Linked DNA regions of Homo sapiens. The protein of the gene in region 4 purifies or fractionates together with the protein of the main gene of each other region. This does not show direct contact. Each region holds a gene or a part of one and is shown on either strand. Other genes may lie near its edges.

Region 1 (5,007 bases), on a different chromosome or scaffold from region 4:
GAGCTAATGAAAAGTAAAAGAAGAGGTTTTATTTAAAAGATTGTATAATTGTATAAAGTATTTGAGATATTATGAGGACAGGATCCTTCTTAATTGATTTAGGAATAGAATTCTACTAGTAGACAATCCATAAATTAAAAGTCATTTGGGAAAATAAGGGGCACATAGGTGAAGGGACTATATATTTGTGATGAAATCTGCATGCAAAAACTTCTGTCATACAAATTTTAAGAGAATCAAAGATACTCAGTTAAAAAGAAACCAGTCATGAAAATGCCTTCTTATCATGCTAAAAAGTTTAGCTATACAAATGGTTAAAAGAAGCTATCAGTTTTTATTGCTTCTGTTTTTTCAACAAATATTTATTGGATTTATTAGGTGCTAAGTTTACCAAATTATTTAAAACCATATATATTTTTTACCAGAATTATTCCAACTCATTTATACTTAGTATACTACTTTAATAAACCTAGTTTAGAGGAAAGAACCCTGGAGGCCTGAGAGCTAACCTTCCTTGTTATTAACTAGCAGTATGACCTTAGGCAGCCAAATCCCTGCTCCATGACTGTTCCCTCATTATAAAACCAAAAGAACTGGCAGTCTCTAAGCATCCTTCCCACTGTAAAAGGGAGGGTATTCTAGTTCTATTCAATTAAGTTATGTGTGTATAGTATTATACAGCATAGTGGTTAAGAGTTAGGCCTCCACCAGGAGAATGGCGTGAACCCGGGAGGTGGAGCTTGCAGTGAGCCGAGATCACGCCACTGCACTCCAGCCTGGGCGACAGAGTGAGACTCCATCTCAAAAAAAAAAAAAAAAAAATTACTAGCTGCAGCACTATAGTCACATTACTTAACTTCTCTGTGCCTTAGTTTCCTCACTTGTAAGACAGGGATAATAACAGTTCCTATTTTATAGAGCTTATATGAGGATAAGATGAGAAACGCAAGTAAAGTACTTAAAACAGTGCTGGACACAATAAATGATTTTTAAAAATTAGCTATTATTACAACAGGCAGAGTGGGCTAGGCGCCTGTAATCCCAGCACTTTGGGAGGCCGAGGCAGGTGGATCGCTTGAGCTCAGGAGTTCAAGACCAGCCTGGGCAATTGGGCAACATGGTGAAACCCCATCTCTACAAAAAAAAAAAAAAAAAAAAAATCAACAAAATTAGCTGGGTGTGGTGGCACATGCCTATAGTTCCAGCTACTTGCGGGGATGAGGTGGGGGGATCATTTGAGGCCTGGAGGTCGAGGCTGCGGTGAGCCATGATCATGCCACAGCACTCCAGCCTGGGCGACAGAGTGAGACCCTGTCTCAAAAAAATAAGTAATAATAATAGGCAGAGTGCCTAGCACACAGCAGGTTCACCAGTGAAGAGCTGTACCAAGGAAATGACACATAAGCTATCTTGGAAGATGCAAAGGAGCCAGCTAGGCAGGGTAGGGGTAGAGGCAGCAGGGAGAGGGCATTTCAGTCAGGATGGATAGCAAATAGCAAAACTTAGAGGTGGGAAGAGGAGTAGGAGAGGCCATCCAAGACGCAACTCCTGCAGATGAGGCAATCGCCATATCCTGCAGTCCTAAGAAAGCAGTGAAGGCTTCTTAACTGTATTCCAAGTGCAAAAGGCCACAGGAAAGTGGCATGGCCAGATTTATGCTTCTAAACTGTTGCTGTGTGGAGAACAGATCAGAACTACCAATGGTAGTTTGGCCATAAACTGAAAAAAGCCAATGCTCACAATTAACAACTGTAAGCAAATTCTTAAAAGTTACTTGTATTATTTAATGCCCAACCACCGTTTAAAGAGGGACTGTACCTTATTATAAATTAATTAAGGAGACAGTATGTGGTATATTACAGCAAGGACAAAAATGAGGGGTCACTGTGTGAAATGTAAATACATGTTTCATGTGCTAACAGCCTTCACTGTGAATATGAATATAAGAATTTAAACAGCTTCCCAATGTTCTTCCCTGAAAGTGGATGTTAGCCTAAAATGAGTCATCAAGCTGTAGCCACAATAGTCCCACTCACTTACATAATCCAGAAAACACTGCACTTAATGACATTATATGTTACTTTTGTATTTAATCTAGCAGAATCAGAGGTAAATTAATTGCCAACTCTAGAAATTTGTTTTTACTCAGACCTTTCCCATTCAAAGCCTAGGAACATACCTTATGTGCTCCCAGTCGACACCTTCAAAAAAGGGATGACCTTTTATTTCTTCTACTCCACTATTTCCAATTCTGTTTTCAGAATCAATACAAAATCTACAACATGGAAACAGAGAAATTATCATACACAAGTTACATCTAAAGTATTCTAGCTGCATTACTTCAAATATTTCTTTTTTAAAGAAATATAATGTTTTTCTTTTATTGATGTTAACTATGTTTATTGTAGGAAATGTGGAAGAAAATAAAAATCATCTGTAAGCGCACTGTTTAGAGATAACTACTGTAAATATGCTAATCTTTTACAATATTAAAAATACTGTGTTGCTACCATAGTTACTATGTTAGGTCTGCTTTTTTTCACTTGATATACTGAGAAAATTTGCCAAAGTCATTAAATATTTTTCAATAAATTTTTTTTTCGTTTGTTTGTGAGACGGAGTCTCGCTCTGTCACACAGGCTGGAGTGCAGTGGCGTGATCTCAGCTCACTGCAAGCTCCACCTCCCGGGTTCATGTCATTCTCCTGCCTCAGCCTCCCAAGTAGCTGGGACTACAGGCGCCCGCCACCTCGCCCGGCTAATTTTTTGTATTTTTAGTAGAGACGGGGTTTCACCATGTTAGCCAGGATGGTTTTGATTTCCTGACCTTGTGATCTGCCCAACTCGGCCTCCCAGAGTGTTGGGATTCCAGGCATGAGCTGCTGTGCCCAGCCAATAAATTTGTTTTCTAAAATTTACATATAGAGGTATTATAGACAGTCTACTATTGAGCCAGTCCACTACTGTTGAACATTTAAATAGTTTTCAATTTTCACTATTAAATACCATGAAAATCATAGTGTACCTAAATCTTTATACGTATCTGATTATCTGCATAAGCGAAATCCCTAGAAGTAGAACTTCTGGGTCAAAGGTCATACATAGTTTAGGGATTTTAAAAAAATAATATGCTGCCAACTGGCTATTCCCACAAGTTGTCCCAATTTATATTCCTTCCAGCCATTCACAGCAGTACCAAAACACTTCATATTAGTTGAGGAACACATGGAATTTTTTGCTTAGAAGATTTTACATATATACTTTTCATGACAGGAATCTGCTATTAACATTTTCCTTTTTCTCTTTAATGGAATCAGGTCATTGCATTCTAACAGAAGTGACCTTTTGCTTTTATATATATCAGTAACAGAAGCAATACAAGACTTCCTCCCTCTTTTTAATTCCTACGTTTTTTTCTGCATACTTCCTTTTAAGAGTTTACATTTTTAAAAACACCTTTATTGATCTCTTTGACTGTATACATCAGTGGTATCCCCTCTTCCCCCACAAAAGTGAAATGAGTCTTTTAGGTTCTTAGGAAGTTTTAAGACACTATGAACTCCTCTAGGAATTTAACCACTAACCTGAGAATTAAGTCCTTGGCTTTCTCAGATATAGGTACCTCTGGAGGAAATACCAGAGTTTCTTTCCAGTTCATCACTTTTCTGTACGTTTCTTGAGGTGTTTCAGAGCAGAAAGGTGGATATCCTATGTATCAAATAAATCAAAAATGTTTCATCAGCTTTGTGAGCAGTGAAGTTTATACCCACCAAACATGTGCGACAAGAAACCAAACAACCCTGAGTGCTCTATTTAACAGTCAAAAATGCCACCATTCATCAATTTACAATCACGTTGCTAATAAAGTCAATAAAATAAAGGATTGAAAGCACTGCCTCCCCTTTTACCTGAAAAGCTATGTAGATAACCACTTTTATACGTGGGAGTTTGGGTTAAATACCCACCTTCCTGAAACAGGATCCGTGGGGAGCTCACTGGTATTGATCAGTATGTATTTAACATTGGGGGAACATCAGAATTAAGCTTAAAAGACTTCAAATATTTTAGTCAATGATATCTGTAATATGTTCAAACAATGGCACTCAAGGAAATGTATATATTTTGTACATAAATGAATGATAAAACATACCTATTAGCATTTCATACATAATCACTCCCAAAGACCACCAGTCACACAATTTGTTGTAACCAGTCTGCATGAATACTTCTGGAGCAATGTAATCTGGTGTCCCAACTGTGGAATATGCCTACAAAGGAGCAACTCGTCAAACCAGCATTCTTAACATTTAAAAAATATCTATCTGAGGATGGCTTACTACTGGAAAAAGCAATATATAGAGGAGTTAAATTTTCACTTGTATTTATTTTGCATGTTTATCATGTGCAAGGCTTAGTGGTAGGTAGTGAGTCAGATAATATGTTATAGACTACTATTTTTCAGTCTATTTACTTTCCTGAGGGAATGCTGAATTAGTTTTCCTTTCATCACTTAGTTGAACAAATATTTATAGAGTGTCCATATGTGCCAGGCATTTTATAAGAATATATCATTTCTGCCCCCACAAGAAGCTCAGTTAAGTTATTTATATATATAGCCTTCAGTCTATTTCAAAAAGAATGAAAAAGTTGAACCTAGAAGACCTGGCTTCCCCACTCACTACTAATGTGTTCTTGGGCAAATTATTCAATTTCTCTGAGGCTCAGCTTCTGCTTACATAAAACTAGAATAATAATACCTGCCCTAATAGAGTTGATATGAAGATGAAACAATAAACGGCATGTGTTTTGTAAACTACAAACTACAAAAATAAGCATGAGGTATTTTCATTATAAATGTAATTCCAGGGTACTGCTTATCCTTTAGGAAGCTATGCAGTTTTTAATTCTTAATTCATATAAAATCTTACAAAAATGATTTCTACAAGGCAGTAATTCTCAACCAGGGGTAGTACTCTTGGGGCCATGGCAAAATGTAGGACCACAGATT
Region 2 (5,007 bases), on a different chromosome or scaffold from region 4:
TGGAAAACTGAGGATTTGGGACCTGAGTTTAAGATCTGAAAGACCTAAGTTTGAGAGAAGTGAGACTTTAAGAGACCTTTTAAAGATCTAACGAGATAGTGTGTGCCTGTAATCCCATCTACTCGGGAGGCTGAGGCAGGAGGATCGCGTGAACCTGGGAGGCAGAGGTTGCAGTGAGCCGAGATCGTGCCACTGCACTCCAGCCTGAGCGACAGTGCGAAACTCCGTTTCAAAAAAAAAAGATTTAACAAGAGATACTCTGCTAAATGGCAACAGAGCATCAGGCAAATAGAAGAGGGCAGGATGTGCAGAAGATCACCAAACAGCTGTGAGAGGAGAGGGTGGGTAATAGCACCAAAGACAAACTGTCTCTACTTTGAAATTCTAACTTAGGGGCAACTTCATTCCTCCCAAGTGCCAAAAATCCCCTCAGGAAAATAGGACCTACTGCTACATCCTAACTAGCTTGGTAGGGCTAGAAAGGAAGAGCATTCAATGCAGCCTCTCTACTCTCAACTCTAGTCTCCTATCAGATGAGAATTCAATTTTCAAGTCTCCTACCAGATGAGAATTCAATTCGCATCCATGTCCCAGACCTGTTGACTGCCCTGCCTTTCCTATCCCTCAACCACACCACTAGGAAATGCTGTTTGTAGAAAGGCTTCCTACAGAAGGGTCCTAGATTAAATGTAGAAGTAAAACAAACTGGAGGTACAGACAGAGGTTTTGACTGAGAATCCTATGTGTACCTTGATTGTCAGGGTTTTAAAGGGGGACCCATAGGGTAAGCAAAAAAGACAAGATCAATCTATTTGGCAATTCCAGAGACTCCAGAAACAAAAGTGGCCAGCAATGTTTCCCATAAATGTGAAACAGTCTACTGCAAGAGTTAAAATAACTGGTAATGGTAACAAACAGCCATCATTTATCATTGAAAAATTATTTGCCATCTGCCTGCCATTAAAAGTCTCACTATGGATGAAGCAGTTACCGTATAACAGAAAGGGCACCAGATTAATGTAAGAGGTTCTTGACTGTAGTGGGAGGTCCTAGGTAAGACACCACTTCTCTGCAATTCATTATCTTTATTTACATTATCTTCATTTATAAACTGAAAATAATACCAACATTTCACAGAGTTGCTGGAATCATCAGACTATAAAGGAAAGTTCTTAGTGCTGTGAATGGCACATTATACACATTAAGTTTATAAATGTGAATCAATAACATATATAATTATCTCAAAATTAACTGAGAATAATAAACTGTATGTTTATGATGGCATATACAAAACCAAAGCTTCTCCCTCCTATGTGACATTTTATCTTAGGAAAAAACATGAAGAAATTTATTTAAAAGTCACAAGAAAGTAGTAGTATTTATTCAATGGGTGGATGGGTTGAGAAGAAGACAGGATTGAGAGGGTAAAAAACAAACCAAATGTAGGGTCTGTCTAAATCATCTGTGTATGTGACTCTAGGTAAATCACTTCTCAAGATTATGCCTCAAATTCCATATCTATAATGAGGAATTATAATATTTATTTCATACACTTCCCAAATGATACAATTAAACTAGCTCTTTGGAAGCAGAGCTCTACATAAGAGCCACCTGGCATTACTACTGGCCAGAACTACACTGCATCAGGCCAGCAGCTCACCAACACTTTGAATATACTTACTGGAATCTTTCATTCACAAAGTTGTAATTTTCATATGTGGAAAAAAATCTTAGTGCTTCAATTTAGGTTTCACAAATCACTCAAACAGCACTGTCAAAAACTAGCCATGTGTTCTAGGAGGAGGTAAGGTTTCACAGGAGAAACTAATAGTACATGGAACTCCAATCCAAGTCACCCTCTCCTTTATCACAGAGATCACAGCTTCCACTCAACATTCCTTGCCTACTTTAGTCACATTAATAATTTCTTCCTTCTCTGAACTCCCATAAGGTAACAGAATCCACCAAACAATTCAGCAATTCACAACTAAATAGTGTTTTTCTTTCTTACTAAAAACAGACAAAAAAAACAGTTCATTAAAAGCATGGGAAATAAGTGTTATAGAAAAAGAAAGTAACCCTGAAATTCCCAGTAAAATTTAGCATTACATGTGAGTAACTATCAAAGTGAAACCTGTTAAAAACACTGCATCAAAAACCAAAAACTCGTATTATTTCAACATATGAGAGACCCAACTTTTAAGACTGACATGCTACGAGCAATGTATTTGACATATATGTATGTGTATGTGGGAAATGTAATATGTACAAAGGTGGAACATACTGCTATGGACATGGAAGAGTAAAAATTTAGAAAACCCATTAACAGGGCTGGTTCATTTTATATACTGATATGAACTGATCTCTTAGATACACTGTTAATTAAAAAATGCAAGGTACAAAAACAGTATGTATAGCCTGCATCCTTTGTTTTATATTTTCCTTTTTAAAAGGAGAAAATCATATATATATATATGCACATATGTATTCAAAAAATGTAGGGGAAAGTTAGTACCAATAGGTGATAATGGTTACCCTGGAAGAGAAATTAGATAGATGAGGAGCAGGAATGAATGAGACTTTTATCTACCTTTCCATGGACCTTTTCTATTTTGCATCATATGACAACTAAAACAAACAAAAAAAATTTAAGTTGTGCACCTAAAAGACTCAAAACACCATAAAGTCAAAATAATTACTTTGGAAACATATCATGTCTGCAGTGGGTAATTATTAGTAATTTATAATATAGTCAAACATAGAAAATATAATTTTTCATCAGTTTAAAATACACGCACAGGTGCACACATGCATGTGTGTGCACACACACACACACACACACTCTACCTCAGATTCTAGATAGCAGGTTTGTAAAATTACAAATGGCAGGAGTTACATCAATTAATATTTCTCCTAATTAACAGCACTCAATAAAAGGCTCATACAAGCATGAAAAGCATAACAAAAACAAGGCCGGGCGCAGTGGCTCACGCCTGTAATCCCAGCACTTTGAGAGGCCAAGGCGGTGGATTACCTGAGGTCAGGAGTTCGAGACCAGCCTGGCCAACGTGGTGAAACCCCATCTCTACTAAAAATACAAAAATTAGCTGGGCATGGTGGCACATGCTTGTAATCCCAGCTGCTTGGGAGGCTGAGGCATGAGAATGGCTTGAACCTGGGAGACACAGGTTGCAGTGAACCAAGATCGTGCCACTGCACTCCAGCCTGGGCAACAGAGCGAGACTCCATCTCAAAAAAAAAAAAAAAGCAGAACAAAAACAAAAGATAAACCATCATACCTTTTCCTTTCCATTTAACCTTTGCAACCGACTGGCTAAAATCCACATGTATTCTTCTGTCATCTATAAGCACATTGTCCATTTTGAAGAATGCTTTCTCACAATCTTCTTCCTGATAATAATTATAAAAACTCAAGCATAAATCTTTATGGAAAAGATTTCTGTAGCTAGAATACTGAAAATACAAAAAGTTTGTTGTTACAAAAATTAATGTTTGAATACTTATTACACACCCGATGCTGTTAAATGCTTTGTATCTATTACCTCAAATACCTCTGGTAACAACCCCATGAGGTACTATCCATTTTCTTAATGAGAAAACAGAAGTTTAGAGAAGTATAGAAGTTGTTGGCAAGGGTCAGAGCCAGGATTTTAGAGAGACAGTCCAACTGCAGTGAACAGATAAATATACACTTACTGACTGTATTATACAGGTTCACAATCCTTTTTACTCAAAATTCAAAAACATCCTGGAAAGTGAAAGTTGTGTTCCTAAGTTTGTTGTTAAAATTAATTTGGCAGTAACACCAAACCTAATGGTAGGTTATGACCTTTTTTTATCCACTTAGTATGAATATTCATTTGTTTCACTGCAGAAATACTTTTGTGACAGATTATGGAATGCTGACCCAGAAAGGTATTACATAATCACAGATGTAATGTGTATGTGTGTATGCATATATACAGTATTACCTTTCTGAATTCTGAAAAATTCTGAATTAGGAAGCCTAGTTATTCTCAAGGGTTTTAGATAATGAACTGTGAGACTGTAATACCAAGCTCTGTGCTACACAAGAATCCTTCCTGTCAGTAACTTCACAATTCTAAATCCCTGTTTCTGACACTGACAGTTACATATTTCAACTCAGTACTGACCAATTTTCTTTTACATTCCTGGAAACTTATTCTTACTAGAGATAATCCAAAGAGAAGCAGATAAAATAGTTATAATCATATTTATTACATGTCAATAATTAAATGAATTATAAAATCCATGAAGATATAGACAAAGCTTGATTCGTCTTTGTAACTACATCATTTAGAACATCATATGGCATGGTATCTAAAACGTAGGCAATCAGTGTACGTTTCATGAATCTGACTGATTATTTTCAGGCAGGTATAATTCTATCACCATGCTATATCCCCAAAGAGAAAGCTCTGAAGATCACTTTTTCAGGAGGATAGTATTTGCAAATACTCAATTTACTTACACCTAAATAATAGTTAATAAATCTCTTCAAAATTGAGAAACTGATTCAAAAATAAATATTCAAAAGTCAAAAACAGCTATGACAATCTTCAAAAACAACAAAGTTGGAAGACTCACAGTTATCAAGACATTTATAAACCTATAGTGATTAACACAATGTAACAGTGGTATATGAATAGACAAATAGATCAGTGCAACAGTATAGCGTCTAGAAACAGACTCTATACATATATGGATACCGATTTATAACAAAAGTGGTACTACAGAGCTGTGGGGCAGGACAACTTTTTTTATTATTTTTTTCATCAGTAGAGACCTCAGAGAAAAAGGACAACTTTTTATTTATGTATTATTTTTTTGAGACGGAGTCTTGCTCTGTCGCCAGGTTGGAGTGCAGTGGTGCGATGCTGGCTCACTGCAACCTCTGCCTCCCGAGTTCAAGCAATTCTCCTGCCTCAGTCTCCCGAGTAGTTGGGACTACAGGCACGCACCACC
Region 3 (4,891 bases), on a different chromosome or scaffold from region 4:
GGGACCGGGCGTCTTCCTGCAGGCAGCGGGTGGCACAGGCCTAGTGGAGGTCGGGGGCGTGGGGACAGCTGGTCCTTGAGATAGTCTGGGGGATGGGCTAGGACAAGATGGGAATATTTTGGGGAGAGGGACCTGTGGGGAGCGAGGAATGAAATCGTGGCTATCTGGAGACGCGGCCTTGATGTCTGGGAATGGGGGCGGGGGGCCCAGTTCACACAGGAGGAACGGGGCCCCGGAAGCCTGGCTCCCCACAGGGTCGAATGGAAAGGGGCAGCCGCATGTGGCGGTGGGTTCTCCGCAGCTCGGAGACTGGAGACCTGGATGCCTGGCCAACAGGGAGGAACTTGGGAGGGGCAGCCGCAGGCGGTTGGGGTCCCCACTAGCCGGGCCTAGGAGAGCGGGTAACGGTTTCCGACCATTTGGCTTCAGACACACTCACTGTGAAACCACCGACCCCAAACCTCCCTTCCGAGGCGTGCCCCTCCCAGCCTTGGGGCGGGGGATCCAGGACCGCCCCCGCACCTCAGTCTTGGTAATGTAAGACTTAGAAACAGGACCTTTCTGTTCCTCAGTTTCCCCATAATGAGGGCCTAGACTAGGCGGTCTGCGAGTGTTCCCTGCCGTAACACTCCCCCGACTTTGGATCCAGTGTAGCCACCTGCTAAGAGACCCTTAAACGCCGCAGTAGGGCGGGGCTAAGGGCGGAGCCAAGAAGGCGCCGAGCATCCTCTGCTTCCTCCCCCTCCTGGGTCCTGCCCTCGACAGCGCGGATCCTCCGTGGTCCGGGAAGCCTCAGCCCAAGTCCCGGCTCCCAGCCCCGGTGGGCCCCACCCAGGCAGACGCCCCGCCCCCGGCCAGCGAGGCTGGCCGCTGACCTAGTATGGACACGGCACTGGGAAGAGAGGCGTGGAGGGTGACGCCAGGAAAGGGGCTGGAGAGGCCTAGGCCCCGCCCCCACGGGTCGCCCCCTCCACCTCCCATCACCGTCCCGCCGTGGGACGCACCTGCCGAGGGTGGAGGATAAGGGGGTGACTGCGCGGCTGCTGTTGAGCCCGCCAAGAGCTAAAAATATTTCCCAACAAAGAGGAGTAAGGAGGCTCCCAAGGAGAATGAATTTATTAGGGAGTGGGTGCAGTTGGTCAGACCCCATAAATAGGAGGGGACCGGGAGCCCGAGGACGGAAGGGGGCCCGTGTCCTTAGTCACGCTGGACACTGGGACATTGAGAGTGGGGAAAATGAGGGTTCCAGGAGGGGCTTAGAGATCTAACTCCAGTACCCCACCCTCTGCATGAGGTGCTGGGGCTGGCCCAAGAGAGTGTGACAGACTCAAGGGCTGGTTTGGGGTCTGGTCTGGAGGCTCAGATGGCCTCATCCGGGGCTGGCAGGCGCTGGCGGGAAGGCTCCACACCCCAGATCTCCCGGGCATACTGGGCAATGGTGCGGTCACTGGAGAACTTGCCAGAGGTGGCTATGTTCCGGATCACCATCCGCGTCCACTCTCTTGGGTTCTGCAGGTCAAAGGGAAGCTCTGGTTCACTCTGCTGGCAGGATCTCCACCTTCTGCCTCATCCCAACCAGGGCCACCAAAGCCCTGCCAACCCCTGGCCCAGGACCCCTCACCTTGTACAAGGCGCTGACTTTCTCCTGGCATTTAATGTAGTCTTCATAATCTGCGAAGACTTTAAACCTGGAGGGGAAAGGATAGGCATGTGCTATTCCTTTAGGGGGCTAGGATAAGTTCTATGAGGTCAAGGGCCAAGCCTGCCCTGTCCCAGTGGACAGCCGGGGACCTAGAGGGTCATGCTGCTTCCAAAGGCGCCTGGCTCCAACTACCAGGACCCGCGTCCGGCTTCCCCACCACACACCTGAGCCTCGATCTGCCCTGCGGCCCCACCTGAGTGATTCCCGGGCCAACCAGCTCACCGGTCATGGTGCATGAGCATATTGACAATGTCCTTGAACAGGTCGGGCTGTTTGGGGGAGAAGAAGCCACTGCTCAGCTGCTCAATGACCTGCCGAAGCTCAGGAATGCGATCGTAGTACTCCTGGGCATTGTACCTGCCAGGACAGAGCTGTGGTCAGCTCCCCGGAAAGGGGTTCCTGGCTCCTCTTCCAGAGAAAAGCTGAGAAGTCCCATGCCCCAGGGTCAAAACCCAGGTCCAGCCTGCTGCTCCCCAGGGCTGCCACATCGCCCCTGCAGGGCCTCCCTGCAACTCCCCTTCTCTGCTCAGCTTTTCATCCCTCCTTTGTGAATGAAGAAACTGAGGCCCGGAGGATACAGAAAGCTAAGTGTTAGAGCCAAGGCCCCCAAACAAGCTCTTTTCTCCCACACGCCACTGCTGTCTCTTAACCAGTTTGTTTGCTCCAAAATGGCTTTTCTCCTCCAGTAGCCCAAGTCCATATCCGGCCTTGCCCTGGGGCAGCAAGAGCAGCTAACAGGTACAACCCTTCAACTGGGCCAGGCATGGTGGCTCACGCCTGTAATCCCAGCACTTTGGGAGGCCGAGGTGGGCGGATCATCTGAGGAGGTCAGGAGTTCAAGACCAACCTGGCCAACATGGTGAAACCCAGTCTCTACAAAAATACAAAAAGTAGCCGGGCATGGTGTCGTGTGCCTGTAATCCCAGCTCCTCGGGAGGCTGAGGTGGAAGAATCACTTGAACCCGGGAGGCGGAGGTTGCAGTGAACCGAGATCATGCCATTGCACTCCAGCCTGGGCAACAGAGCAAGACTCCATCTCAAAAAAAAAAAAAAAGATAACCCTTCAGCTGACCCTCAGCGCCCCCACCACGGCTCAAAGCGCTCCACAGGCCAGTCTCAAAACCTAACCGTTCCAACCAGAAACCAGCGCTCCCCACAAAATCTCTAATCCCTCGTGCGACTCTCTAGTCCCTTGTGCGACTCTCAGGCAACTCTCCCTGCATTATGGTGTCAGCCCCCACAGTGGTCCCCCACCTGCCCCCTCCAGCACTGTCTCCATCCTGCAGCCAGAGGGTTCTTCCAGGCCTCGTTCTGAGCATGCGGGACCATGCTCACAACATCTCACAGCTCCCTCCTGCCCATGGGACAGCCAGCTTTCTAGTGAAGCCTCACAGGAGACACTTCTTTCAGTGTTTAATGCCAACTCTGGGAAGCTGTTGTGGGAGTGTAAACTGGGAGAAACTTTCTGGAAAGCAGTTTGGCAATCTGTATCAAGAGCCTTAAGAACTCATACTTTTTAACTCAGAAATATCACCCTTCTGATAATTATCTTAAGGAAATCATCAGATGTGGACGTAGACATTAAAAGGTTGCTCATCACAGTAATATTTAACAAACCGGAAATTAACCTTAGTGTCCAGCCACATGGAATTGATTAAATAAGTTGTGACATGCTCATAGGATGGAATGTTATACAAACATTTAAAATATTTTTGAAGACTAATAACATGGAAAATCTCTCTCCAATGCTAAGATATCAGGATTCAAGCAGGGCGCGGTGGCTCACGCCTGTAAACCCAGCACTTTGGGAGGCCGAGGCGGGTGGATTACTTGAGGTCAGGAGTTCAAGACCAGCCTGGCCAACATGATGAAACCCCATCTCTACAAAAATACAAAAATTACCTGGGCGTGATGGTGGGTGCCTGTAATCCCAGCTACTCGGGAGGCTGAGGTGAGAGAATCACTTGAACCTGGGAGGCGGAGGTTGCAGTGAGCCAAAATCATGCCATTGCACTCCAGCCTAGGTGACAGAGTGACTCTGTCTCAAAAACATAAAAATAAATAGGCCAGGCGCAGTGGCTCACCCCTGTAAGCCCAGCACTTGGGAGGCCGAGGAGGGTGGATCACCTGAGGTCAGGAGATAGAGACCATCCTGGCCAAAATGATGAAACCCCGTCTCTACTAAAAATACAAAAATTAGCTGGGCGTGGTGGTGGGTATCTGTAATCCCAGCTACTCAGGAGGCTGAGGCAGGAGAATCGCTTGTACCCGGGCGGTGGAGGTTGCGGTGAGCCAAGATCGTGCCATTGCACTGCGGCCTGGGTGACAGAGCAAGACTCCATCTCAAAACAAAACAAAAGGCCGGGCGCAGTGGCTCACGCCTGTAATCCCAGCACTTTGGGAGGCCGAGGCAGGCAGATCACGAGGTCAGCAGATCGAGACCATCCTGGCTAACATGGTGAAACCCCGTCTCTACTAAAAATGCAAAAAATTAGCCAGGCGTGGCAGCAGGTGCCTGTAGTCCCAGCTACTCGGGAGGTAGAGGCAGGAGAATGGTGTGAACCCAGGAGGCGGAGCTTGCAGTGAGCCAAGATCGCGCCACTGCACTCCAGCCTGGGTGACAGAGCGAGACTCCGTCTCAAAAAAAAAAATACATTAAAATAAAATAAAATAAAATTTTTTAATGTAATGCCAGGATAATGTCTTCTCTGAAGAACTGTTTCTGACCATAGGCCCCTTGTAACTACTGTGCCCATATTTCCCTTTTGCCCATGGCTTTCAGGGAGCAAGGATTTTTTTTTTTTTTTTTGAGGCAGAGTCTCACTCTGTTACCCAGGCTGGAGCGCAGTGGCGCGATCTCGGCTCACTGCAAGCTCCGCCTCCTGGATTCACACCATTCTCCTGCCTCAGCCTCCCGATCAGCTGGGACTACAGGCGCCTGCCAACACGCCCGGCTAATTTTTTGTATTTTTAGTAGAGATGGGGTTTCACCGTGTTAGCCAGGATGGTCTGGATCTCTTGACCTTGTGATCCGCCCGCCTTGGCCTCCCAAAGTGCTGGGATTACAGGTGTGAGCCACCGCACCCGGCGTAGAGCAAGGATTTTTTTACTTCCATTTCCCAAACAATATTATCTCTTAGGGTTGATATAATATTCTCTTCCTTTTCCTTCAGTTCTATATTACTTCTT
Region 4 (5,007 bases):
GTACACGGGGACGTATTTTACTGATCCCTATTCCATCATGTTTTTAAATAAAAGCAAGAAGTAATATGTAGTAGTGTTAATAATTATAAAACAACTTGTATCTTATTACAGAAGCCAAGCAGAACTGACTATCAAATATTTTCTTATCTAACATTTATAACAACTGGATGAAAAATTTCAAAGGCTGTGTTTGTGCATGACTAAAAGAATCATATATCCAAAAATAAAAATGTATCTGCAAAAGAGCCAATCAAATATCTTGTACTGAAGTCCAAATCCCTTCTAATTATCACATATAAAAGTTGCCAATATATACTTACTGGAATCAGGCATAATGCGAAGGTCGCCTTCTTTGTAATCATCTAAGAGTTGGTACATGTACAAGACAGGGTCTTTCTCATAGGTAATGTAAAACCATGTGTTCATGACAGGTGCACGTGCTAAGACCATTCCCCTCCACTCATCTTTAGAACCATCCTCTGTCTCAAACATATGTTCCACTGCTTTGCCAATCATTGTGTCTGCCAAGTGTGCATCGCTGATTCGAGATGTCGCTGGGGATTAAAAAAAAAAAAAAAAAGTTGACAAAGTGTTTCGCTGATTACCGACTATGAAGACTGAATTTACTAAAGAAGGCTACACCTGAAATTTTGTCCATGCAACGTATTAGCAAGCATCAGAATCTGGGAAAGCTTTAAAAAGTACAAAAACCAAAGACAAACTACTGGGCCCCAGCTCAGAGATGGATTCAACAGAATAGAAGTATTTTGTCCCAAGTCAGTTAATTGAAAAAAATATGATTTTTTATTTTTCTGGACTCATCTGCTCTTGGTTCTGTACCCAAATCAAAAGTTTTAATTGTTCATTCAAGGTATAAAATACTGTTTGTTATTGTTTACTTAACAGTTAAATTTTGAGATAATTTCAGACTTACAGAAGAACTGGAAAAATAGTAGAGTTCCTGTATACGGTTCACTTTGCTTCTCCTGTATTAGCATCTTACATAACCACAGAACGTTTATTTAAAACTTAGAAAAGCTATTCAAGGCACAGAGGGTTTTTTTTTTGTTTTTTTTTTTTAAAGAAATTGGTGTTTGTTTTCCTTCAGTCTTATTTCCATTTTTTTATTAAGGCATAGGTTTTTACTCTCTTGCTCCTACAATCTTATTCTTCACTGCAACCAAAGTAATCGTTGTGTCACTGATACCACATTGTGTGATCTAAAATGTTCCCATGCCTTCCCTTTATAATTTGAAAAACAACCAAACTGCTCACCATAGCCCCCAAGCCCTAAAAGCCTTCACGCCTCTGCCCTCAGGTTTCCCATCTTCCTCCTTGTTGTTCATGCGTTCTCTACTCTGCTCTTCTTCCTCTCCCATTAGGACACACTCTCCTCTGCCTGATAAGCTCTTCCCCATACCTTCAGAAGGCCGGTTCCTTTTGGAGTTCTCCTGACCAACAAGGTAGCCCCACAAATCCCAGTCACATTACCCAATTTTACCTCTTAATAACATTCACCATGATCTAAAGTTATCCCACTTTATGTTATTTGTGTACTTGTTAGTTGCTTGTACATCCCCATGAAAGCAGAGACCTTCCCTTTCTTGTTTTATACCTAGATCATAGCAGGTCAGTATTTGTATGATTTAATCAGATACCCCATGTGGTTGGGAGCTCAGGTCTCTGAAATGATAGATTAACGGTCCTAGCCCTTAATATTTTTCAAAAGTGGTGAAAATTATCACCTTCATCTTTTTAATACTGGAAAAACTATGAAGGATCCCATTGGTTTTAAGACTTCTCCAGTCCACAATTTTAGATAACTGTCTTTATACCAAATTTAAACAATTATCTTTAAAAAACAAACAAACAAACAAACAAACAATTAGAGACAAGCACGGTGGCTCACGCCTGTAATCCTAGCACTTTGGGAGTCCAAGGCGGGCGAATCACTTGAGCCCAGAAGTTTGAGGCCAGCCTGGGCAACATGACAAAACCCCGTCTCTACTAAAAATACAAAAAATTAGCCAGGTGTGGCAGTGCAGGCCTGTAGTCCCAGCTACTGAGAAGGCTCAGGTGGTGAATCACCTAAACCCAGAGGTCGAGGCTGCAGTGAGACAAGATGGCGCCACTGCACTCCAGCCTGGGCTACGGGAGTGAGGCCCTGTCTTAACAACAACAAAAACAACAACAACAAACAATTAGCTCTCCTATTTTCCTCATTCAACAAACTTCTATTTCTGTTACATCAAAAGAAACAAAAAAGTGAGATTTTCTTGATACATGTATTGCTATTTAATTTTATCAGCAAACCCTAAACATGTATGGCTGGTTTTAAGTACGCAGTAATAATAAAAAATTACACAGAATTCCCCCCGTGTATGACAGTAAAAAAACCCCACTAGTTTCTTAAAGCCAGTAGATCTCAGACTTAGATCTCAGAACTCCATGTGCATTCTTAAAAATTACTGGCTGGGCACAGCGACTCACATCTATAATCCTAGCACTTTGAGCCCCAGGCAGGAGGATTGCTTGAGGCCAGGAGTTTGAGACCAGCCTGGGCAACATAATGAGATCTCATCTCTACAAAAAGTTAAAAATTAGCAGGGTACTGTGGTGAGTGCCTGTAGTCCCAGCAACTCAGGAGACTGAGGCAGGAGGACTGTTTGAGCTCAACGTGTTGAGACAGCAGTGAGCCCTGATCACACCACTATACTCCAGCCTGGGTGACAAAGCGAGATCCTGTCTCTAAAAAAAAAATTAAAACATAAATGGAAATTACTACAGACCTAAAAAAGCATCTGTTTACATAGATAATGCCTACCAATATTTACTACTTCAGAAAATGAAAAACAAATCTAGAAACATTTATTTAAAAATACCTATATATCAATGCATTTTAAATTAAAAATAACTATTTCCTATCAAAATACATTAAGAGTGGCTTAATTTTACATTTTTGCAAATCTCCTAATGTCTAGGTTTTAAAAAGAACAAGTAGATTCTCATATCTGCTTTAGCACTCAATCTGTTATGATCTGCTCTTTCAGTTCAGGTATAAAATCCAGCCTCTCAAAGATATGATACTGAAAAGAATATTCTAATCGTCTTTCAGATAATTCTAGATATACTTATATGAAACCACAGAATTCAACAGTTAGCTCCTTAAAGGTTAGTTACAATGCAGAATCTGAAACCATTAATAAATCTGTCATACTGTTACATTAAAACTCATGTCTCCAGAACATATAAAGAACTCTCACAACTCAACAAAAATCAAAATAACCTAATTAAAAAATGGTCAAAGGATGTGAGTAGATATTTCCCCAAAGATGATTTACAAGTGGCCAACAAGCACATAAAAAGATGCTCAATATCACTAATCATCAGAGAAATGCAAATCAAAACAAAATGAGGTATCGTATCACACCCATCAGGATGACCACTATGACAAAAACAGTAAATAGCAACTGCTGACTAAGGGATGGAGAACTGGAACCCTTGTATACTGTAGGTAGGACTGGAAAATGGTACAACTGCTGTGGAAAACAGTATGGTAGTTCTACCTAAGAAATTAGAATTACGATACTAAAATTAAAATTATAATTACCATATGATCCAGCAATCCCACTCCTGTGCCTATATCCAAAACAACTGAAAGCAGGATCTCAAAGAAATATCTGCATATCCATGTTTACAGGAGCACTATTCACAATTTTACATGGTACAATTTTACATTCTACCAAGAGGTAGAAGCAATCCAAATGTCCATTAATGGGTGAACAGATAAACAAACTGTGGTATATAGATACAATGGAATGTTCTTTTCAGCCTTAAAGGAAATCCTGTCACACGTTACAACATGAACCAACTTTGAGGACATTATGCTAAGTGAAATAAGTTACTCACAAAACAAATACTGTGTGATTCCACTTCTATGAGATATCTAGAATAGTCAAATTCATAGAGACAGAGTGTAGAATGGTGGTTGCCAGGGGCTGGGAATGGGAGGAAAGGTAGGTTGTTTTGTTTAATAGGTAGAGAGTTTCAGATTTGTAAGATGAAGTAGTTCTGGAGATCTGTTTCAACAATGCGAATGTACTTAACACACTACTGAACTGTACACTTAAAAATGGTTAGGACAGTAAATTTTATGCTATGTTTTTTTACAATTAAAAAAAAAGTAGTTAGTCTTGCACTTTGAATAGCTCTTTCACCAATGCATGATGTGGTACCATGCACTGCTCATAAAGAAAATATTGTGTTCACTAAGTTATGCAAATCTTCCAAATAGATAGTGGGAAACTCCACTGTGTAATTGAGAAAAAGAGAGAGTGAAAAGCGCGAATTACAGCTTAACAAAATGAAAATATTTCTGACCTTGCAAATCTCCTGAATGGGCTTCAGAGAACCCAAGGGTCCCCAGGCCTTGCTTTGGGAACCACTGCTCTGTGACATCACATGCATTCTGGCTGACTGACTTTTTTCTCTAACTTTAGCTTAAGAAAAACATAATTTTAATTATACTCTAATGTACTGCCTGAAGCAATTGCTTCCGACGTAAAACGTAAGTGAAGAGCAAGTAATTTTTTAGACTAAAGTAGGTTGATGCCAAAGTAACTGCTGTTTTGGCCATTACTTTCAATTTCAATGTCAAAAACCGCAATTACTTTTGCACCAACCTAATACCACGAATACTAAAATTAATAACAACTATTAGCTGAATTAGGCATATATATTGCTGATTTACAGAAAAGCTCTTGGGTTTCTTTTTATATTGCTTGAATGTTTACAAAATTACTATTGTTGGAAACAGAGATAATACCAAACTACAAACAACATGGAACCCTTAGTCCCATCACCAGAGATACTTGTACAGTTTCTATCCTTCGATGACAAAAGGACCAACAACCACAGGTCATGCAGCAATATGCAGGAACCTTCAAGTGAGCTAGCTGTCGTCTCAGAAGGGGCAGAGACTAAAATTCTGCTGTTAAGATTTTTAAT
Region 5 (5,728 bases), on a different chromosome or scaffold from region 4:
GGGAGGAAGGCCTTGATGAGAGGAAGACCTGAAGAGTTGAGACCTGAAAAGTGTGTAGGAGTTAGCCGGGTGAAATGCAGAGGTGGGTAGAAGCTTTTCTGGCGGAGGGAAACCCTAGTGTCAAGGGAGAGCGCATGGAGTGAAGCACTTCCTGAGGCTGGAGCAGAAAGAGGAGATCCAGCAGAGCCAATGATAGGCTTTGCTGAGAATCCCTAAACAGCTCTTGATGCATTTAAAGAAGGCAATGCCAATCCATTAGAAAAGAACATTGGTGTCAAAACAGTCTTGTTTAAAGCTGAATACCTGTGTGCTCTCTTTGGCAGCACATATACTAAAACTGAAATGATACAGAGAAGATTAGCATGGCCCCTGCACAAGGATGATAGGCAAATTCATGAACTGTTCCATAGTAAAACAAACATACAAAAAGGCTGACTACGGCCAGGTGCAGTGGCTCACAACTGTAATCCTAGCACTTTGGGAGGCCAAGGCAGGTGGATTGCCTGAGCTCAGGCATTCAAGACCAGGCTGGGCAACACGGTGAAACCCCATCTCTAATAAAATACAAAAAATTAGTCGGGTGTGACCAGCCTGGGCAACACCATGAAACCCTGTCTCTACTAAAACACAAAAAATTGGCCAGGCATGGTGGACTGCGCCTGTAATCCCAGCTACTTGGGAGGTTGAGGCAGGAGAATTGCTTGAACCTGAGAGGCGGAGGTGCAGTGAGCAGAGCTCAAGCTCGCACCATTGCACTCCAGCCTGGGCGACAGAGTGAGACTCCGCCTCCAAAAAAAAAAATGCTGACTATCTGACTACACTCCTGTAATCTCAGCACTTTGGGAGGCAGAGGCCGGAGGATCGCTTAAGCCCGGGAGTTCAAGATCAGCGTGGGCAACATAATGAGACCCCTATCTCTACAAAACAATTCAAATATTAGCTGGGCCTGGTGGCACACGCCTGTGGTCCCAGCTACATGGGAGGATTCCTTGAGCCCAAGAGATTGAGGCTGCAGTGAGCTATGATAGCACCACTGGACTCCAGCCTGGGAGAAAGAGCAAGACCGTCTATATATATATATAATTTTTAAATTTATTTTTAATTTAATTAATTTATTTATTTTTTGAGACGGAGACAGAGTCTCGCTCTGTCGCCCAGGCTAGAGTGCAATGGTGCAATCTCGGCTCACTGCAACCTCCACCTCCCGGGTTCAAGCAATTCTCCTGCCTCGGCCTACCGAGTAGCTGGCGTTACAGGCACCTGCCATCATGCCTGGGTAATTTTCGTATTTTTGTAGAGATGGGGTTTCACCATGTTGGCCAGGCTGGTCTTGAACTCTAACCTCAGGTGATTCACCCACCTTGACCTCCCAAAGTGCTGAGATTACAGGTGTGAACCACCGCGCCTGGCCAAGACCGTCTATAAAACAACTGAATAACCAGCTGAATAAAAGCTGAATAACCAGCATCCAACACATTATCTGGTACGTAGCTACATTGTGTAAATCACTGGTGAATTCAATAAGCACAAATAACAAAAAAAGAAAAAAAAATGAATTCAATAAGCACGTGTACTTTGAAAATGTATTTTAGGCAGGGCGCGGTGGTGATCCCAGCACTTTGGGAGGCTGAGGCAGGTGGATCACTTATGCTAGGGAGTTTGAGACCAGCCTGGCCAACATGATGAAACCCGGTCTCTACTAAAAATACAAAAATTAGCCGGGCGCAGTGGCTCACGCCTGTAATCCTAGCACTTTGGGAGGCCGAGGCGGGCGGTTCACTTTAGGTCAAGAGTTCGAGACCAGCCTGGCCAACATGGTGAAACCCCGTCTCTACTAAAAATACAAAAATTAGCCGGGCATGGTGGTGCGCGCCTGTGCTCCCAGCTACTCAGGAGGCTGAGGTAGAAGAATCGCTTGAACCCGGGAGGCGGAGGTTACAGTGAGCTGAGATCGCGCCATTGCACTCCAGCCTGGGCGACAAAATCGAGGCTCCGTTTCAAAAAAAAAAAAAATTAGCCGGACAGTGGTGGCGGGTGCCTGTAGTCCCCGCTACTGGGGAGGCTGAGGTAGGAGAATCTCTTGAATCCAGGGGGTGGAGGCTGCAGTGAGCCGAGATCGTGCCACTGCACCCCAGCCTGGGAGACAGAGCGAGACAACGTCTCAAAAAAAAAAAATGCCAAAAGTAATTTCCCCTAGGGAGGCATGGGGTGTTCCTTTCTCGGCACGCAGGCCCCTAAAATCCCTTCGGGCGGGCGGGTGTGGGGAGACCAGGCGGCTGGGAGACCCAGGCGGTGTTAGGGGTTGCGAGCAGCCTCGCTCAACTGGGGAATTGGCGGCAAGACTGCCAGGAGGCGGAACCTAGGGCGCTCGGCGACGCGGTCCTGCGGACTGTCGCTAGTGAGGCACCCGCCGGCCCGGAAGGGGCTGATGCGAACTGGGGCCACGGCAGCCATCGCGCTTTGCAGTTCGGTCTCCTGGTGTACGGCCAACGCCAAGTAGGGGATTGCGTTCCCTCCAGTCGCAGGTGAGTGACAGCCCCTCCTTCTGGGAGGACCGGTGGGCAGCAGCTATGGATCCCCTAGAAGGCGCACTTTTAGGGCCAAGACCTACTCTGAGTCCCTGCCTGTGGCACTGCGTGAAGGGGCGCCTGTTTTTCACCCCGGGGTTAGGCGGCGCGAGGGAGGACAGGTCTCATCCATGCTCCGCGGGGCCGTCTGATAGCCCTCGAGGCAGAACACTGCTGCTGTCAGACGCTTGGTCTTTTCAGGAAAGAACGAGGTGGCTGCAGGCAAGCCCCTTCCTTCCCCTGGGCCTCAGTTTCCTTACCTGGTAAGGTGAAGGTGGCGGGTCTCACTGACAGCTGAAGAGGCTGTGACACGGCCTGGTGTTTTCAGCGCTCCCAATTAGTGTAGAGGCAAATTGAGCTTCCTTACTAGTACTGGTTAACGTTTTCCGTAGCCCAAAGTCCCAGTTAAGTGGAAAAAAGATACACTGTTGAGAAAACTGTACTGATTTTTGTTTTAATTTTTTAAATTTTTGTTGTTGTTTTGAGACAGAGTTTCCCTCTTGTCGCCCAGGCTGGAGTGAAGTGGCACGATCTCGGCTTACTGCAAGCTCCGCCTCCCGGGTTCACGCCATTCTCCTGCCTCAGCCTCCCGAGTAGCTGGGACTACAGGTGCCCGCCACCACGCACCGCTAATTTTTTTGTATTTTTTAGTAGAGATGGGGTTTCACCGTGTTAGCCAGGATGGTCTCTTATCTCCTGACCTCGTGATCCGCCTGCCTCGGCCTCCCAAAGTGCTGGGATTATAGGCGTGAGCCACCGCATCCGGTCTAACTTTTCTATTTTTAGTAGAGATGGGATTTCTCTATGTTGGCCAGTCTGGTCTCCAACTCCTGACCTCAGGTGATCTGCTCGCCTCGGCCTCCCAAAGTGCTGGGATTAAAGGCATGAGCCACCTCAGTGGGCCACTGTACTGATTTTTAAGGTGTTGAAGCTTTTCCAAGAAGATTTGTTTTAAAACAGCTAAAACTTTGACATTGTTAGCTGAAAGAACCAAATTCGTCAGCAATTTAAGGTGTTTGGTACAGTGGACAAAATGAGGTGAAGAAGTCCTTTTAACTTGAAAAATTAAACATAGTATTATTTATTTGTGTGTTCTTACATCAGCCTCTATATTACTAAGTGTCTTTGAAGACGTCCTATATTCCGTGTTAAAGTATCAGTGAAGAGTAGGTCACATTGAAACAATGAAAGAAGGAAAGAAAAGGAACATTTATTGACTACTATGAGTAAGGCACTAGCTGTCATTTTACAGATGACAAATAAATGGTGGTGCCAGTATAGCAAAGCAACATGATTATCTACTATTATACCTTTCAGTAGACTTGTGTCTGTCACCAAAATGTTTTGAACTTAAAAAATGTTAAGATAGTTCATTGGCATTTTCTGAGTTTGTAGAAAAGGAAGGTGTCTTCATTTTAGAAATGTCAGAGATGCACTGTCAGTAATTACAAAGATTAGCAGTTTAAATAAGGTATATTTTAACCTTCCTTTGACTTGCATTATTGTACTGGAATAGAAATTCAAGCAAGAATTAAGAAAAAAGATGAGTCTAACAGAAATGAAAATCAGCCTGGGCAACATAGCAAGACCCAGTCTCTACATTAAAAAAAAAAAAATTTGCTGGGTGCAGGGCCCTGGCTAGCAGGCCAGTAGTCCCAGCTACTCGCTGCTGAGATGGGGGGTTTGCTTGAAGCCAGGTCAAGACTACAGTGACCTGTGATCATGCCACTGCACTCCAGCCTGGGTGAAAGAAAAAGACATTGTTGCTAAAAAAAAAAAAAAAAAAAAAAAAAAAAGAAAAAAAAAGAAATAGAAAAGGAAATGAAAATCATTGCCACATCATTTGAAGCTTACAAGTTGGAATGCTATATTAGTATTTCTTTTCTTTTTTCTTTTTTTTTTTTTTTGAGACGGAGTCTCGCTCTATCGCCCAGGCTGGAGTGCAGTGGCTCCAGGCTGACTGCAACCTCCACCTCCAGGGTTCAAGTGATTCTCCTGCCTCAGCCTCTCAAGTAGCTAGGATTACAGGCATGCACCACCACATCCTGCTGATTTTTGTATTTTTAGTAGAGATGGGGTTTCACCATGTTGGCCAGGCTGGTCTTGAACTCCCGAACTCAAGTGATCTGTCCGGCTTGGCCTCCTAAAGTGCTTGGATTACAGGCGTGAGCCACTGTGTCCTGCTATAGGTGTATTTCTACACTTACTTTTTTTTTTTTTTTTTTTTTTGAGATAGAGTTTCGCTCTTGTTGCCCAGGCTGGAGTGCAATGGCGTGATCTCCAGCTCACTGCAACCTCTGCCTCCTGGGTTCAAGCGATTCTCCTGCCTCAGCCTCCCGAGTAGCTGGGATTACAGGCATACACCACCACACTCAGCTAATCTTGTATTTTTAGTAGAAACAAGATTTTTCCTTTTTGGTCAGGCTGGTCTCGAACTCCCAACCTCAGGTGATCCGCCCCCCTCAGCCTCCCAAAGTGCTGGGATTACAGGCGTGAGCCACCTCCCCCAGCCTTCTACACTCATTTCGTTAAGTACTCACTTGGCTGAGCATAGTATTTCTACGCTCGCTCACTTTAAATACTCATCCCAACTCGGGGTTTCACTATGTTGGCCAGGCTGGTCTCGAACTCCTGACCTCAAGTGATCTGCCTGCCTTGGCCTCCTAAAGTGCTGAGATTACAGATATGAGCCACTGTGCCCAGCCCTCACCTTGGCCACTCTTAAAAATTTTCTACTATTTATATTTGTCATGGTTTTATCCTTCGTTTTCTTTTTCTTTTTTTTCTTTTTTTTTTTTTTGAGACAGAATGTTGCCCTGTTGCCTAGGCTGGAGTGCAGTGCCACGATCTTGGCTCACTGCAACCTCCGTCTCCCGGGTTCAAGCAATTCTCATACCTCAGCTTCCTGAGTAGATGGAACTACAGGTGCCTACCACCACACCCAGCTAATTGTTTTTTTTTGTTTGTTTGTTTGTTTGTTTGTTTTTTTGAGATGGAGTCTTGCTCTGTCGCCCAGGCTGGAGTGCAGTGGCGCGATCTTGGCTCACTGCAACCTCTGCCTCCCAGGTTCAAGCGATTCTCCTGCCTCAGCCTCCTGAGTAGCTGGGATTACAGGTGCACGCCACCATGCCCAGCTAATTTTTGTATTTTTAGTAGAGAAG
Region 6 (5,007 bases), on a different chromosome or scaffold from region 4:
CCTTCACAAACAGAAGATATAATGGAAACAGACAGTACTCATTATAGTCAGCTCCACTAGGGTAGGAAAATCTGCAACCTAGAGACTAATGTTTTTCACATGGCTCAAAGTTTCAATATATGCAATGTATAAAAACTCGGACGATATTAACTCCTAACAGTTAATATTTTTCAGCAACATCTGCTGTTCTGCTTTTACTTTGAATGGAAGTTTTGCCCAGCATGTATCCAGAGTGGGAACAAAATTATTGTTCCCATTCTGAGTTTAAAAGACCATTTAATCCTATATAGATTTTCTTCTATCACTGTGATGGTTAATTTTATATGTTAACTTGACTGGGCCTCAGGGTGCCATATATTTGGTTAAACATTAACTTGGGTGTGTCTTTGAGGGCGTTTCTGAATCAATAAACTGAGTATAGCAGATTGCCCTCCCCAGTGTGGGTGGACCTCATCCAATCCATTGAAGGCCTGATGAGAACAAAAAGGCAAAGTAAGAGAGAACTGTCTTTGAACTGGGACATGGGTCCTCTCCTTTCTTTGGATGTGGACTGGAACTTATGCTATTGTCTCTTCTGGTTCTTAGCTCTTTGGATTTGGACTGGAACTGTACCATGGGCTCTCCTTGGTCTCTAGCTTGTTGACTACAGATCCTGGGACTTCTCAGCCTCCATAACCCCATGGGCTAATTCCTTAAAATAAATCTCCTATTTATTCTGTTTCTTTGAAGAATCCAGTCTAATACAATCACTTACTCAAAATCCTGAGCCTCTGTCACCCCTCTTTTCCTTTTAAGCTTCTGATTTAATTTTCCAAGTTTATTATTTAAATGGCAGTAGCCCTGTGACACAGATACACAGCTATATGAAAAAGGAACAAAATTCTCATGTTTTGCTTCAGGAATAAAACTTTAAAGATAAAGGTAGGCTTAAGATATAAGCCCAAACATGTACTGAAAAATGTTTAATAAATGTATTGCTGAACTAATTTTAATTGTCATATTACTATTTTGAAATAAATAAAACCAATATTTCATTTAACTACAATTTGATTCTGAATAAGCAATCCCAAATCCAAAAATTAAGTTTTAGAACTTTTCCTAATCTAAGCTGAGCCTGATTAATATTTACAAAAAAAAATTATTAAAAGAAAACATAATATCATTAGATAATTTTAACTACACATGAACAAAGGATAGAAGGCTCAAGGTACTAGAGAAAATTCACTGCAGATGTTTCATATAGAAAGTACATTTATTGCATGTTTTAATATTTACATGCCTTTACATAACTCAAACACACATCAGATGTGTAATTAGGAAAATATATGAGGAATAACTCATCCATCTAAAACCTGATCAATGTATCCAGAGACCTGCAATAATTTTAAAATCATCAGTTTGTATATATATATATATTTTTGAGACGGAGTTTTTTGCTCGTCACCCAGGCTGGAGTGCAGTGGTACGATCTTTGGCTTACTGCAACCTCTGCCTCCCAGGTTCAAGTGATTCTCCTGCCTCAGTCTCCCAAGTAGCTGGGATTACAAGCACAGGCCACCATGCCCGGTTAATTTTTATATTTTTAGTAGAGACAGGGTTTTGCCATGTTGGCCTGGCTGGTCTCAAACTCCTGACCTCAGGTGATTTGCCTGCCTTGGCCTCCCAGAAGTGCTGAGATTACAGGCATGAGCGAGCCACTGTGCCCAGCCATCAGTTTGTATTTTAAGGCAGAATTACTTGAAATTTAGTCAATAGGCTGCCTAGAATCAGGTCAATTGAAAAGGAAGCTATTTTGAGTTTTTAACAACAAAAAATTATTTGGCTTTCATTTTATACATCAAGGTGGCAGAATACAATTTTGTCACATCATTTGAAAAAAACATTCTTTTACTAGAATCTAACAAAGTATCAGTCTCAAGACTAAAGTTAAAAAGCAATCGACAGAAGTCTATACCTGAAAGGCCTGAATTCTCTATTTAATGACGACAAGGCAATTAGATGAGGGCATTCATCTTCATACTCGTCAGAGCCAGCAGGGACTCCTCCTTGAACTCTCTGACCATCTTGCCTGTTGTAATTTTCAGTTCTGTTTTTCTCCTCAGAAAATTCAGTTACAGAGTTGTTTTCAACAACCTGCCCTTTTATTTCTTCTAAAGCTTGATTGAATTCAGTCATTTCAAAACTCCGTGCATCAGCACTCTCTTCTGATAAACTGTCTTCCTTTATTTGTTCAGGGTCTCCAGATGATCTGCAATAGCAGCCCTCTGATTCTTCTAGACAGTTCCGTTCACTTTCATTTTCTGACCCGTAAACCTCTGCTTTTTCTGCCACTTCTCCATCTGAAAATGAGAATTCAGATCCCTCTTTTGTTTCAATATTTTTATCATCTGGACCTAATGGATGAAGCAGTTCATCATCTGCCTGCATTTCCTTTGTGTAGCCACTGGCAGAAACCTCCACATCAAGAGTGTCTTCTCTCCTAGAAAAAAAAGGCGTCAAGCATAGAAAGAGAGAAAAAATGTTTATCTAAGAGGAGCAAATATCTACTACTCTGATAAATTATGATTCAAGTGAGTTTAATAGCTTATATGTTAAAAATAAATTTTCCTTCCCTAAAATGTAATATTTAAATGACACAGGTAAACAAATATGAAAGGTATATGCTGGCTGTCATTTTAAGAATAAAATAACTGAAAAGCAACAATATAAATAAAAAGGTTATAAAAACCTCAGCTTATGTTTATTAACTTTGTAAATTAACTTTCAAAGGGGGCTAAGGATTTCCTTCAGATTATGTGACTCATCCCAGATCAGAAAATATCTTAAGTGTATAAAATAAATATGAGAAAACTGAGCTTTGAGAATGCACATGATAGTTATGTTTTGAGAATCAATTAAAGATACCTCCTGGTCCTTGATAAAGGAAAAACACAAATTTCAATGAATGTTTGGTGTTATTCCTTATGAATGAGTTACTCAAATAGCATCCAAAATAGAATAAAAGTTCTTGAATTTATAAGAATCTAGATATGTCCGCTTCCTAAAATTCAGTAACAGTGCCTTAATGGACCAAATGCAGGTATTTTCAAGTTTTTAAGTTTCAGTTATGTACTACAGAGCAATGACATCTAACAGTGATTACGTGTCAAAATTTGGAAAGTTTTTTAGATGAAAATGTTAATTTTTAGAAATACACAGACCAGATATTTAAACTGTTCTATTATGTAAAGCAATGGGGAGTACAAACCTGATATCCTTAAAAGTTGGAAAAAGCTCACTTTCGTAGCTGAAACGTTTCATAAAGAAATCTTTAATGCATTTAACATCTCTGTCAAAATACCTGCAAAAGCAAGAATCATTTATGATATAGTCTTTATTGCTCCTCTTTTTCCTTATTAGCCAATGACAATATACTTATTGGTTAATGGTATTGCTCCTCCTTACACAAGGAGATAAAAGATGTTACACAAAAGAAAAAAGATACAAATGAGTTAACCAGTGTGTTTGAAAAACTAAAATCCAAGGAAATCTCAAGGATATAAGCTGTCAATGCCATGCAGTTCCTACGGTTAGGAAAGTCAAGGTTTTGTCATAGTTACTGGTATATAGTTAGATACACTAGGGAAAGATGAATGTGAACCCCAGGAAATAAGATAATGGGCCTATGGTTTGGGGATAGGTTTCCACTTATTCTGTTCGTCCTGAGTCTGGCTATGCTTCTTATCAGCAACACTCACTAGAACCCCTAGCCAACTGAAAGATCTGACGATAAAAAGATATTAATATTAAACAGTTAAGTTTGGAGACTACTGAATTATGTTTATGTATCTTTGTTATCCATTAGCCGATTTGCAATAACACCCAAAGGGATAAATAATGCTACAGCCTATAAAAATAATCTGAGGACATGTTAATCTGGACCAAAAGTAGAACAATATCTGAATATCAGGCTGCCTTTTTGGGCCACCACAAAGCAGCAAAAATGGATTCAATTCTCTAGAAGATTTCCAGACAAGGGAGAATTAAGGACAGGATAATGTGCAATTGACTCTCTTTGAGAAAGATGAAGTTTGGAAATAGGAAGATAATGCCTCTCCTCTTTGCTCACAGGGTACTCTGGGAAAAATACTAATACATTTTAAAAAGACTATTTTATATATGTTTACATCTCCCTACGAGACAGTAACATTTTCTAAAGCATATATAGGGGTTATTTATATCTCAATCTCTAGCAATTAGCACAGCTCCTTGGCCCCAGAACTGGTTCATAAAAATTGAAATTAAATCACAATGTCTCTCCATAGAACGATGCAGCCTAAACCTAGAATGTCATAATCTGTCACACTCTGGAGGCTCCTAGATGTTCCTTTACTGTGTGACTATGTTACTCCTTATTAATAAAAATCATGATTAGTCATCATCCAAAGAGTACTGACCACCCCAGTGCCAGGCATTAATCTTTTAGTATTATTTTGTTGAAAACGTTTTAAAAATTTATTTTCAAATGACATTTCTTTCTGTAGCATAAGTATAGACATTTTCTACTGGAAACCAGGATGAAGAGACGCTTCACTTAACAAAACTACTTCAAGCTCAATCTCTGGAAGAATTAATATACTCTATTATATAAGTGATACTAGTTGTTAGTTTAGGAAAAAAGTTTCTCATAAAGCTTGGAACAGAAAGAAAAAAAAATCCTTAGTTACACTCAATTGAATCATAAACCTCAAGCAAATAAAGGATAAGGTCCTGTTTCATGACTTGGCTGGCTTGGTTTAAATAAGTAATGTGAAGAATATGATTATCGCAGTATATCATGATTCTGCACTGTGTCAGAGATAAAGTTTTATGTGATTTTTTTTCTAATAAATAAAGCTAAAAGTGACAAGAGGTAATTATCACTGGTTTGACAACTGAGTCCAGTCCAAAACCACAACTTTTATTCAGATCATCGAGATTACTGAGTTATACTTGGTGAATCTCTCTTGGAGGCAATCATGGAACAGC

What was found.
Region 1: the proteins of SPIN1 (region 4) and STK38L purify together in Homo sapiens (affinity purification with mass spectrometry, with the first as the bait; one large-scale study listed by BioGRID). This does not show direct contact.
Region 2: the proteins of SPIN1 (region 4) and PPIL4 purify together in Homo sapiens (affinity purification with mass spectrometry, with the first as the bait; one large-scale study listed by BioGRID). This does not show direct contact.
Region 3: the proteins of SPIN1 (region 4) and PYGM purify together in Homo sapiens (affinity purification with mass spectrometry; one large-scale study listed by BioGRID and IntAct). This does not show direct contact.
Region 5: the proteins of SPIN1 (region 4) and SAR1B purify together in Homo sapiens (affinity purification with mass spectrometry; one large-scale study listed by BioGRID and IntAct). This does not show direct contact.
Region 6: the proteins of SPIN1 (region 4) and RIOK2 purify together in Homo sapiens (affinity purification with mass spectrometry; one large-scale study listed by BioGRID and IntAct). This does not show direct contact.

Annotation. Positions count from the first base shown.
Region 1 is NC_000012.12:27,316,596-27,321,602, reverse strand, and holds part of STK38L (serine/threonine-protein kinase 38-like), read right to left. Parts: intron 4,268-5,007; coding exon 4,150-4,267; intron 3,708-4,149; coding exon 3,584-3,707; intron 2,276-3,583; coding exon 2,180-2,275; intron 1-2,179. UniProt on the Homo sapiens protein: Involved in the regulation of structural processes in differentiating and mature neuronal cells.
Region 2 is NC_000006.12:149,517,761-149,522,767, forward strand, and holds part of PPIL4 (peptidyl-prolyl cis-trans isomerase-like 4), read right to left. Parts: intron 3,412-5,007; coding exon 3,300-3,411; intron 1-3,299. UniProt on the Homo sapiens protein: PPIases accelerate the folding of proteins. It catalyzes the cis-trans isomerization of proline imidic peptide bonds in oligopeptides.
Region 3 is NC_000011.10:64,745,300-64,750,190, forward strand, and holds the end of PYGM (glycogen phosphorylase, muscle form), read right to left. Parts: intron 2,060-4,891; coding exon 1,925-2,059; intron 1,689-1,924; coding exon 1,622-1,688; intron 1,510-1,621; coding exon 1,360-1,509; 3' UTR 1,099-1,359; downstream 1-1,098. UniProt on the Homo sapiens protein: Allosteric enzyme that catalyzes the rate-limiting step in glycogen catabolism, the phosphorolytic cleavage of glycogen to produce glucose-1-phosphate, and plays a central role in maintaining cellular and organismal glucose homeostasis.
Region 4 is NC_000009.12:88,463,919-88,468,925, reverse strand, and holds part of SPIN1 (spindlin-1), read right to left. Parts: intron 555-5,007; coding exon 321-554; intron 1-320. UniProt on the Homo sapiens protein: Chromatin reader that specifically recognizes and binds histone H3 both trimethylated at 'Lys-4' and 'Lys-9' (H3K4me3K9me3) and is involved in piRNA-mediated retrotransposon silencing during spermatogenesis.
Region 5 is NC_000005.10:134,629,525-134,635,252, reverse strand, and holds the start of SAR1B (small COPII coat GTPase SAR1B), read left to right. Parts: upstream 1-2,424; 5' UTR 2,425-2,525; intron 2,526-3,053; exon of another isoform or gene 3,054-3,176; intron 3,177-5,728. UniProt on the Homo sapiens protein: Small GTPase that cycles between an active GTP-bound and an inactive GDP-bound state and mainly functions in vesicle-mediated endoplasmic reticulum (ER) to Golgi transport.
Region 6 is NC_000005.10:97,165,513-97,170,519, forward strand, and holds part of RIOK2 (serine/threonine-protein kinase RIO2), read right to left. Parts: intron 3,341-5,007; coding exon 3,248-3,340; intron 2,480-3,247; coding exon 1,955-2,479; coding exon of another isoform or gene 1,927-1,954; exon of another isoform or gene 1,234-1,926; intron 1-1,233. UniProt on the Homo sapiens protein: Serine/threonine-protein kinase involved in the final steps of cytoplasmic maturation of the 40S ribosomal subunit. Involved in export of the 40S pre-ribosome particles (pre-40S) from the nucleus to the cytoplasm.